2 separate regions of the Homo sapiens genome follow, and region 2 is linked to region 1. A link means that fine-mapping ties the variant in region 1 to the expression of a gene that starts in the linked region. Tissue or cell type: whole blood. Region 1 holds a variant in brackets; the other region holds the start of a gene. All regions are shown on one strand. Distances are between the middles of the regions.

Region 1 (5,193 bases):
TCATATCCTGGCTCTGTTGCTTACTTGCTATGATACTTGGGCAAGTACCTCAGTTTCCTTACCTGAAAATGAGAGTAATGTTATACCAGTCCTATAAAATTAGTGTGAAGATTAAATGAGTTTATATGTAAAGCACTGATGACTCATGGAAAACACTAGGTAAATATAACAGTATCATTATTTTTACACAGATGAACAGATTGAGGCACAGAGAGGTTAAGTATCTTGTCCAAAGACACACAGCTGGGTAAAGCCAGGATCCAAAGCCAGGCTCTGAACTGCTATGCCTTACCTCCTCCCCAGGAGCACGTCACAGAGATGTGGTGAAAACGGCATGTGCACATGCATACAAAAGCACTTAGCAGTGTGCATGACACAATATGTCCCATAAATGTCTGTATGTGGAAGTGCGGTTTCTTTTGCTGTAAAATGGGGGTGATTACCCCTACCCTGCCTAACTCACAGGTGACGGTAAGGCTCAAATGAAAAAGGCAAAGCATTTTGGAAATGGTAGAGACACTTGCACATGGGCAGGTTTTGTTGAACCATTTCGCATTGGAATTTCACTTGTGGGTGACCTAAGATCTTTCCCACTGTCACTCATCTTTGTCCCCCACACGCTGTCTTCCTGCCCCCACCTAACACCCAATCTGTGATAGAACAGAGCGGTTGGGGACCTGTCCCAATGCAGTGGCTCCCAGGTTTGGTGGCCTTCTCTGTGCAGCTGCTCTTGTCTGTCTGCACGCTGCACCAAGACCAAAGCCTCGCTGGGAAGGGTCTCACCTGCTCTTGCTGTTGTGGCCTCACAATTGGAGCTGTCCCTTTATTGGGCCTTTGATAAATCCTTGTTGAGTCAAGGCCACTGGGCAGTGAGTGCTTCTGTCCCAGGCATCCTCCTTAATCCTTTGACATGAGCAGCCCTAGAGGTTGCCTCGTGTTGTCACCATCCTTAGTCATTTAATCAACATATTTTTATGGAAAGTCTCTATGTGCTGGGTACTCTCCTAGGTGCTAGGGAGCAGTAATGAGCAATGGAGCCAACAGAGCCTCGTGGAGCCTGCATAATCATGCAGGGAAATAGATACTAATTAATCACACAACTAATGTAAAATTTTGACTTTAATAATCCTCCATAATAGGGTGATTCAACCTGAAGGGAAGACCTCTCTTGGAAGTGGCAACCAAGCCTGGGCACTGAAAGATGAGTGGAATTCACCAGGCAAAAAGAGGAGGGAGGAGTTGTCCAAGGAGCGGGACTATTGTGTGCAAAGGCCCTGTGGCAGGGGGAGGCATGGTTCCTTGAGGAAAAGAGAGAGAAAGCTAGTGTGGCTGTGGCAGAGATGGGGAGGATAAGCTGACTGAAGGCGTGAGTGGGTGACTTCCTGGGCCTGATGGGCCTCAAGAAGGAGTTTATTTAAGTGTGTGTTTGGGATGAAGCAGAGCGATATGAATAAATTTGCACTTCAAATAACCACCCTGGCTGCAATGTGGAGAGCAGTGTAGGAAGCCAGGGAGGACCCATCTAGGCCAGTCAGGAGGCAGTCGCAGGAGTTCCATGGAGAGATGGGAGTGGTTTGGATTAGGGTGGTGCTCATGGTGGTGGTACAAAGAGAAGTGGATGGAGAGATACTTCTCTTTTAGTGGATACGTTAATAGGATAGCAGTATCCTGTGGCTGCTTTTTATTGATTGATTGATTCATTTTATTTCAGTAGTTTTTGGGGTACAGGTAGTTTTTGGTTACATAGATAAGTTCTTTAGTGGTGATTTCTGAGATTTTCGTGCACCTGTCACCTGAGCAGTTTATACTGTACCCAATATGTAGACTTTTATCCCTCAACCCCTGCAGTCTTTCCCCCAACTCTGAGTCCCCAAAGTCCATTATATCATTCTTATGCCTTTGTGTCCTCATAGCTTAGCTTCCACTTATAAGTGAGAATATACAATATTTAGTTTTCCAATCCTGAGTTACTTCACTTAGAATAAGAGCCTTCAGCTCCTTCTAAGTTGCTGCAAAGGACATTATTTCATTCCTTTCTATGGCTGAGTAGTATTCCATGGTGTATATATGCCACATTTTCTTTATCCACTCATTGGTCGATGGGCACTTGGGTTGGTTTCGTATCTTTGCAATTGCAAATTGTGCTGCTATAAATGTGTATGCAAGTGTCTTTTTCATATAATGACTTATTTTGCGGGGGGGGGGGGAGGTGGTTACCCAGTGTGGGATTGCTGGATCAAATGATAGTTCTACTTTTAGTTCTTTAAGGAATCTCCATACTGTTTTCCATAGTGGTTGTACTAACTTATATTCCCACCAGCAGTGTAAAAGTGTTCACTTTTCACCACATCCATGCCATGGCTGCTTTTTATTGAGCACATATTATATACGAGCCATTGTGCTCAACACTTTACATCTGTTATTTACTCTTAGGGTTATTCTAAGGATTAAGTATTTCTGTCCTTTTACAGATGAGGAAACTGAGACTTACAGGGGTTAAGTCACTCACTCAAGGCCACACAGCCAGTAAGGTGGCAGAGCCCTAGAGCAGCCTCTCAAGCTTCAATGTGCGTTTGAATCACCTGGGGCTCTTGTTAAACTGCTGCTACAGATTCAGCAGGTGGGAGAGTGGAACTGAGGTACTCTGTTTCTGACGTGCCCCCTGGGTGGCCCTACTCCTGGTCCCTGGAGCACTTTGAGCAGC[G/A]AGAGTTTCTCTGCCTGTATGGCCCACACTCTCGACCCTGATGCCTTAGAAACAGCTGCAGACAGGATGCGATTCCTGAGACTGCTCAAACCTGAAACCCCATGGGCAGGATGTGGGTGAGCTGTCTGGACCTCAGGTGGGTGGGAGTTGTATCATATGCTCATTTCCCACATTGGCCTTTCAATAGCTTGAGTAAACCCGAAACTGAGAGGGTTGGAGGCAGCATCTCCCCTTCTACTCCCCCGCTTCACCTCCCCGGGCAACCAAACCCCACCCGTGCCCAGCTTCTGAGCGATAGACCTGGGCTGTGTATTTGCAGGAGCCTCACTGGGGTCACCAACCAGGTCATGTTGTGTTGCCCCAATAAATGGAACTGGATCAGAAAATCCAACGTGGATAGTTTTTAGGTGCCAAGCTGTCAGCTCTTCCCTTGGACTGTGCTGAAAGTGGAAGAGGAGAAAAAAATCAACCCAATGTTCTAAGCTCTCTGTCTACATAGTCATTAGATCCCAGGATCGTTAGAGACCAAATCCCTTCCCACTTGGCCCCTGCAAATGGGGCCAGGTGTCACTGCTGGGAGACGCCAGTAAGGCTGCACGTCATGGTGTGAGCACTTGTCTTTAATGACTGGGAAAATCCATTTCCTTCCTTGGCAGCTTTGAATGTAGCAACTGTGGTTCTGGGTCACTGCCAGAGCCAGCCTTGTGTGTATGTGTGTGATTTTTTAAAGTGGGGGAGAATGTCTCAATATTCAATGCTCACCCCCTTCCTTCCAAGTTGTACCCCCAGAGAACTGTCCAACACAAACTTTGGAGTTTTCCACTCTGGGAGTGGTCTGCTGGCACCCACGTGTCCTCCCCTCCTCTAATGCATCCTTTCTCTCTTGATCTCATTGTTCTGGGGTCCTCAGCTGAGTGGGCATCTGTGCCTGGGTGATCGATTCTAGTCTCTTTTCTGCAGGAGAGAACTCTTGAGCTCTGAGACAGGTAGAAAGAAAATCTTAAACCAAATAATAATGTTCTGCCTCACACTAGTAAATATTTTGCACTAAAAAATTCCGTGTCATTTTGATTTGTTCAGGTAGACAAGAACATCTTTTGTTTGAGGAAGAACTGAAGAGATTTCTTGGGATTCAGCTCCGATGGCTCTGCCTGTATCTCTCTATCATTGGAGCTTTGTTTTCCACCTTTGCAAGACTTGAGTGAAGGGAAGGCTTTGTGGTCTATTGTTAGGTGCTCTTTGAATCTATAAATCACAGGCTACAGGAAGGGAGGGGCTTCCAGAGACCATCTAGAGCCACCCTCTATCTCTAGCAGGGACACACACACACACACACACGTACACACACACAATGACTGCCTGTTGCGCGTTTCTAGAACCTAGTGGGGACAGGGGTACAGTTTCTTTTGGTGCATAGTTCTCATGTTGATTGGTTCCGACTGTCATGTTCTTGCACCTGTCCTGAGTATCTCTTGCTGTAGCTCTGGCCCTTTCCCCAGTCAGCTACTGCACTGCCCTGGCCCATGTTTCTTAGAGACATGGTTATCTCTGTGCTATTAGTGTCTGTGTCCTGGCCGAGGCAAGTCCCTTCCCTTTCTGAGTCTATATTCTTATAAAATGTGGCTTTGAGAATAGATGATGTTTCTGGTCTTAAAATTCTCTTTGACTCTGGAGTTCTGGATCTGTGCTTCTGTTTGATGTTGTTTCTCTTGCTGGGTGACCTTCTCTCTGACTCCCTGCTGTAAAGACCTCCTTTTTTTTTTTTTTTTTTTTTTTTTTTAATCAAAACCTAACTTGGTCCGACCTACCCCATGGCTGACCACCCAGGCACTTGCTTTTGACTTAAGGGTAGCACCATACGATGTCTTCTTTTTGTTTTTCATTTTAACAACCTGTATTTTTCACATCACAAAACCTTTCTAGATATTCACTGTAGAAAATTCAGAAAATATAGGTCAATAAGAAGAAAAAGATAGAAATCACTAAACTTCTATCAGACATAACCGCTGTTAAGAATTTGGTATATTTTCTTTCAGTCTTTTTTGTAAACACTCATACATAGGCCAGTGAATTTCATACTATGTAATTTTGTGTTCTGCCTTTCCACCTAATAATATATACTGAGCATTTTTGCCTATCATGAAACATTTGTAAACACAATTTTTAATACCTATTTACTACTTTACATCTCCTACTTTAGCCCTTGCATAATTATTTCCAAATGGAACAAATATCTGTCTTGTCCAGCCCACTGAACTGGCCAAATCAAATGAGATAAAATATGCAAAGAGCTGCACAAATATAAGTGATGATTGTTCATTTTGTTAGTTTTATCTCCCCAAGTGAACTACTTTACCGTATTGTCTCAAAATCGTTAAACAGTTTCCTGTTCACCAAGTTTTGCACAGTGGTGGGCAAAACATGCTGTCTGGCTGTAATCTCTTAAAAGGGCGTTACATATTAATAACTTTAAAAGTTTTTTCTTAGCA
Region 2 (5,128 bases), 60 kb before region 1:
GGGATGCTTACATAGCTGGTAAAACATTACTTCTGGGTGTGTCTGTAAGGGAATTTCTGGAAGAGATTAGTAATTGAATCAGTAAATTGAGTAAAGAAGATCTGCCCTTACCAGTATGGGTGGGCAGCATCCAATCCACTGATGGCTGAAACAGAACTAAAAGGAAGAGGAATGGCAAATCCATGCTCTGTGCTTGAGCTGGAACATCCATCTTCTCCTGCCCTTGGACATCAGCTCTCCTGGTTCTCGGGTCTTCAGACTCAGACTGGGATTTACACTATCGGCTCTTGTGGTTCTCAGGCCTCCTGGCTTGGACTGGAACTACACCACCAGCTTTTTAGACCTCCAGATTGCAGATGGCAGATTGTGGAACTTCTCAGCCTTCCATAATCACAGAAGTCAATCCCTCATAATAAATCTCTTTTTATATATCTATATATAGCCTATTGGTTCTGTTCTGGAGAACTCTGATTAATATAGATACTTATAACTCATCCCAAGTCTCTCTAAGCCTTGGTATTCTTATCTGTAAAATGGGGCTATTAATAATTATCTACCACAAAGATTATTCTGAAAAGTAAATAAGACAATATGTATTTGGCACATAGAAAATGTTAGTTCACTGTTCTTCCATTCCCCGAGCTTCAGTTTCTACATCTGTGAAATGGGCATCTACTCACTCATTTCTTCATTCATTTACTGAGCAAACACAGTGCCCATGTGGAAGGCATTGTGGTTAAGACCCGGGGCAGTTAGAGAAGTTAGAGAGTTAGAGAAGTGAGGAAGCCGTGGTGAAGAACTGAGCATCTGCTTTGTGACAACACACCAATAGTCTTTAAAAGTCAGTGGGAGAAGAGCCACGGGATGTATGAGGTCTCTGGGGGCTAGAGGTGTGGGGCAAGGGGACACCCAGGGTTTCAGAGAGCTTTTTAGAGAGACTGGTATCTCCCTAGCAAGTGATGGTATCAACAACTTGGTGTGATCACCAACATCACATCACTTTGCAATGGAGTTACCTGCTGGGGCCTCTGGTTTTCATAGCCTGAGTGTGAAAGGCACGTCAGTCCTGCTGCAGCCCCACTTTCCACCCTGGCTCACAGAGCACACCAGAGTTTGGTCAGAGTGTCACATCACAGTGAGCATCTAGTTCAAACAGACATTTCCTTCTGAGATTCAGCTCTGCTCTTCTCCCTTTCTGGATCCTACCTTCACAGGGGACTGAACAGTGATTCCCCTACACTCTCAATGAGGAACAACACAGATGATGACTCTAATGAATGCTGGGTCCCTGCCTGGTTCTCCAAAGACAAGGTTGCCCTTTCCTGCAGTGGGACCCAGTGAGGCGATGCTTGGGTGTTGGAGACATGGGTGAGGCCAGGCCAGGTCTCTGGGCTCCTGCACCCAAATGGGTCACATGCTTATCTCTGATTTGCACAGCTGGCTCCACATCAACCTGCCAACGAAACTCACAAGAGATTGAAATATCTGAATTAGAATTTTATATTTAAGCTGCATATATTTGTGGGATTGGGAAGGATTAGTCATCTCCAGTGACCAAAATGTTTGCACCTGTTACCCACTTTCATTTTCAGTTGAGAGAAAGTTGCATGCCAGGGATATTTAAACATCGAGGGTGGGTCTGCTGTCAGTGGTCTGGCCAGAGGTAGAAGGATGACTGAGTCCCAGCCGCCCATCCCCAGCAGGCCTCAGGGAAGAAGCAAGATTTACGAGGCGAGAGCCTGCCTGGCCCGCTTCTTCTGTCGGGAAAGGCTTCCCTGCAGTATTTTCTGTCTCGTCAACACTGCATTTCATTTTAAATTGCAGCTGAAAGTAGATATTTTCCCTCTTGCCTATTACAAACCTCTTAATTTGTCTCTCCCTCTGCTGTTATTTGTCTCTATAAAGTGTTTTGCATGAAAGACCCACACAGCACAATGTTGCTTCACCCTGGGTTAGGTTTAACAGGAAGGGAAGATGCAGAGACTAAGTCCAAGGAGGAAGATGTGAGGGCCTTGGGGTTGAGGACACGCGTGTCTGGGAGTTGATGCCTGGCTGTTTTTGGAGGTTATCTGTTGCCTGAGTGTCTGTGGGTATGCGGGTGCACATGTCCATGTTTGTACTAATTTACATATATGTCTATGCATACTGTGGTATAATCACTTGGGTGTCCATACCCAAATTAAGTGTATGTTTGAGTGCATGTACACACCCACATGCCAGTCTCTGTGTGCATATAGATCTATGCCCAGACGCACACATGTGCATATAAACACACGTAGGCATCAAGGTAGACGTCCGTCACATTATGTGTGTGGTCTTCTGTAGACACGCCCGGGGCTCTCTTCCTTTCGCTGCTTCTCAAGGCTGCGGTCAGCCTCCCTCCGTGCTCCACCCAGGAGCCCTGGCCCCGTTTAGGGTTGTGGGAAAAGGAAGGCACGCCAGTGGTCTGCGAGGGGGCCAGTGGAAACATCACCTCCGCCGACCCGGCCGCGGTCACAGCTCTCTGGCTTGGCTCCAGCCACCAGCAGCACCCCTGCAGCCCGGCGTTAGCGCTGAGAAGCCCGGGGCAGCCGCCAGGGCGCGGGCTGCCAGCTCCCTGACAACCCCGGGCTGGCACTCGGGGGCGAGAGAGGTCACCCAGCGACGGGCACACCCCTCCAGAGCAACACCGTCTCCGGCCCGCTTCCGGGGGCCACCAACCCGAGCCTCGCGGGCGGGCTGGGGGGTGGTCTCTGTCGCTTGGGGTCCAGCGAAGGCTGGGCAGTAACCAATGGACGACTGTGGCCCAACGGGGATCCCTCGGATGCAGCCAATGCCCTCGTTGCGCTCTCCGCCCCCGCCCTCGCCTGCCCCGCGCCGCTGGACCATTGGCGCCCGCTGGATGGGGGGTGCGCGCGACGCCTGCCCTTCGGGGAGGGCGGGGCTTGGAGCGGGCTGCGCTCCCGCCCGCGCTCGGCCTCTGCCCCGCCCCCGGACGCGCGGCCCTCAGCCGGCTGCGGCGCGGCGGCGGCGGGAGGGGGCGCGGGGCGCGCGCGTGGGCGTGGCCGGCGGGCGTGGCCGGCGGGCGGCAGGAGGCGGGGCGGCGGGCGCTGTCGCAGTGAAAGCCCGAGCGGCGGCGGCGGCGGGGACGGCGGTGGAGGCGGCCGGGTGGCTGTGCGCGCGTGTGGGGCGCAGGCTCGGCGGCAGCGGCCGGTCTGGAGCGGCCGCTGCGAGGAAGACAGCTGCAGCGGGGGAGGCGCGGCCAGGGCTGCGCGCTCCGCGGAGCCGGCGGGGCCGGGAACAGGTGATCCCAGTGGGAGCCCCGCGCCCTGCCGAGTTCGAGGGGCGGGAGCCCGCGCTCCCGGGCGCATCTGCAGCCGCCCAGCCGCGGCTCCGGACCCAGGCATCCCTGCGCTGTCTGGGGCCCGGGGGAAGCCCCCTGCCCCCGCAGGCTCGGAAGTGCCTGCTCCTGCTCCCTGGCCACTCCGGCTCCCAGCTCCCGGCGCCCTCTCCGCGGCGGAGAAAGTTGTGGACGTGTCCCGATAGTCGAGCCCGGGCGCTGTCGCGACCGGGCCGGGTGTGCGCGCGCTCGGGGCGGCGCTGACACGCCAGCCCCCCATCGCCTCGGTCCCCTCCGGAAACTGCTTCTGAAGCTGAAACTTTGGGCGCCTACCAGCGCGGGCGGGAGCCTAGGGGGCGGAGGGCGGCTTGGTGCGGGCCTGCGGGCGCCCCTCGGCGCGGACAGCCGGGACGCCGCGGACGGCATGTGACGGTCCCGGCGGCCGCAGCGCGGGAAGGCGCGGGCCCCGGCGCGGCGGGGAGGGCTCGGCCGGAGGGGAGGCTGCGGCGCGCGGCCGGTCGCTGCGGGCCCGGGCCCCAAGCCGTGCCGCTCCGCTCGCCCGGGCCCCGCCGAGGCCGCTGCGCCCCCGCCTCCTCGCGGGAGGACTCGCTCCAAACTCCCTGAACTTCGGGGACAGTCCCCCGAAGCGGCGAAACTCTCAGGGTTGGCAACCCTGCCCAGGGACCCCCATCCCGGGCGGCGCTCCGGACGCCCTCCCCTCACCGCGCCCCCGCAGACACGTGCCTGGACTCCGAGGGCTTCTGGAGCCACCGGCCGGGCCACGATGCTCATGAGGAAAGTGCCCGGCTTCGTCCCGGCCTCCCCGTGGGGGCTGCGGCTGCCGCAGAAGTTCCTCTTCCTCCTCTTCCTCTCGGGCCTGGTCACCCTGTGCTTCGGGGCCCTCTTCCTGCTGCCCCACTCCTCTCGCCTCAAGCGCCTCTTCCTGGCCCCCCGGACCCAGCAGCCTGGTCTGGAAGTGGTGGCTGAAATCGCCGGCCATGCCCCGGCCCGCGAGCAGGAGCCGCCTCCCAACCCGGCCCCCGCCGCGCCGGCCCCGGGCGAGGATGACCCCAGCAGCTGGGCCAGTCCCCGCCGCAGGAAAGGGGGGCTGCGGCGCACCCGCCCCACTGGACCCCGCGAGGAGGCCACGGCGGCCCGGGGCAATAGCATCCCGGCCTCCAGGCCCGGGGACGAGGGCGTCCCTTTCCGCTTTGACTTCAACGCATTCCGGAGCCGTCTCCGCCACCCGGTCCTGGGAACGAGGGCCGATGAGAGTCAGGAGCCCCAGAGCCAAGTGCGAGCCCAGCGGGAGAAAATCAAGGAGGTATGGACTCAGCCCCCAAACTCCTCCCACCAACTGCCCCCTCTAAGGAGAGAAGACCCTCTGGCGCTCCCACCCCTTTCCCTTGCCTCAGTCACTCCTGGTCCCAGGTCTACTTCTGGCCCTGCAGACTGCACTTTGCACCTTCCCCTTTCCTCCCAAATGTCCCACCTTCTTTCCTCCCTACACAGTTTCCCACCACTCGGGTCAGTTAATCGTCCCCACCGTGACAGATGGCAGCTGAACCCCTAGACCAACTGCCCCCTCACTCCCAGACTCTGGTATGTCGTATCCAACCCCCAGGCCCAGTGAGCTCCACTCCTTCCCTTTGTGGAGTTGCTAATGAGAGTGGAGTTCAGGTTCCTTAGTGCACCCTCTTTTTGCATTTGTGGACACAGAGCCACTGGTCCCATTCTTTTTCACTGTGTGACCTTAAGTCCAAAACCCCTATAGGACCTGCTTACCTAAAAACCCAGGATTTAAGGGGG

The links. PIP is the estimated chance that this variant, and not a neighbour inherited with it, causes the effect.
Region 2: MAN1C1 starts here. The variant in region 1 is fine-mapped to the expression of MAN1C1 in whole blood (INTERVAL, PIP above 0.99).

What each region holds. Positions count from the first base shown.
Region 1 is chr1:25,673,390-25,678,582 of GRCh38, forward strand. All of the region lies in intron 1 of MAN1C1 (mannosidase alpha class 1C member 1), which reads left to right. Among named protein-coding and RNA genes, the nearest start is that of MAN1C1, 59 kb to the left of the region's middle. RefSeq lists a silencer at 2,855-2,924 and an enhancer at 3,005-3,054. The variant G/A (reference allele first, on the strand shown) is at 2,705.
Region 2 is chr1:25,613,695-25,618,822 of GRCh38, forward strand. MAN1C1 (mannosidase alpha class 1C member 1) reads left to right here and starts at 3,097. Exons shown (of 12, transcript NM_020379.4): 1 at 3,097-4,643. The coding sequence starts at 4,104. RefSeq lists an enhancer at 2,363-2,532 and silencers at 2,723-3,012, 3,033-3,322.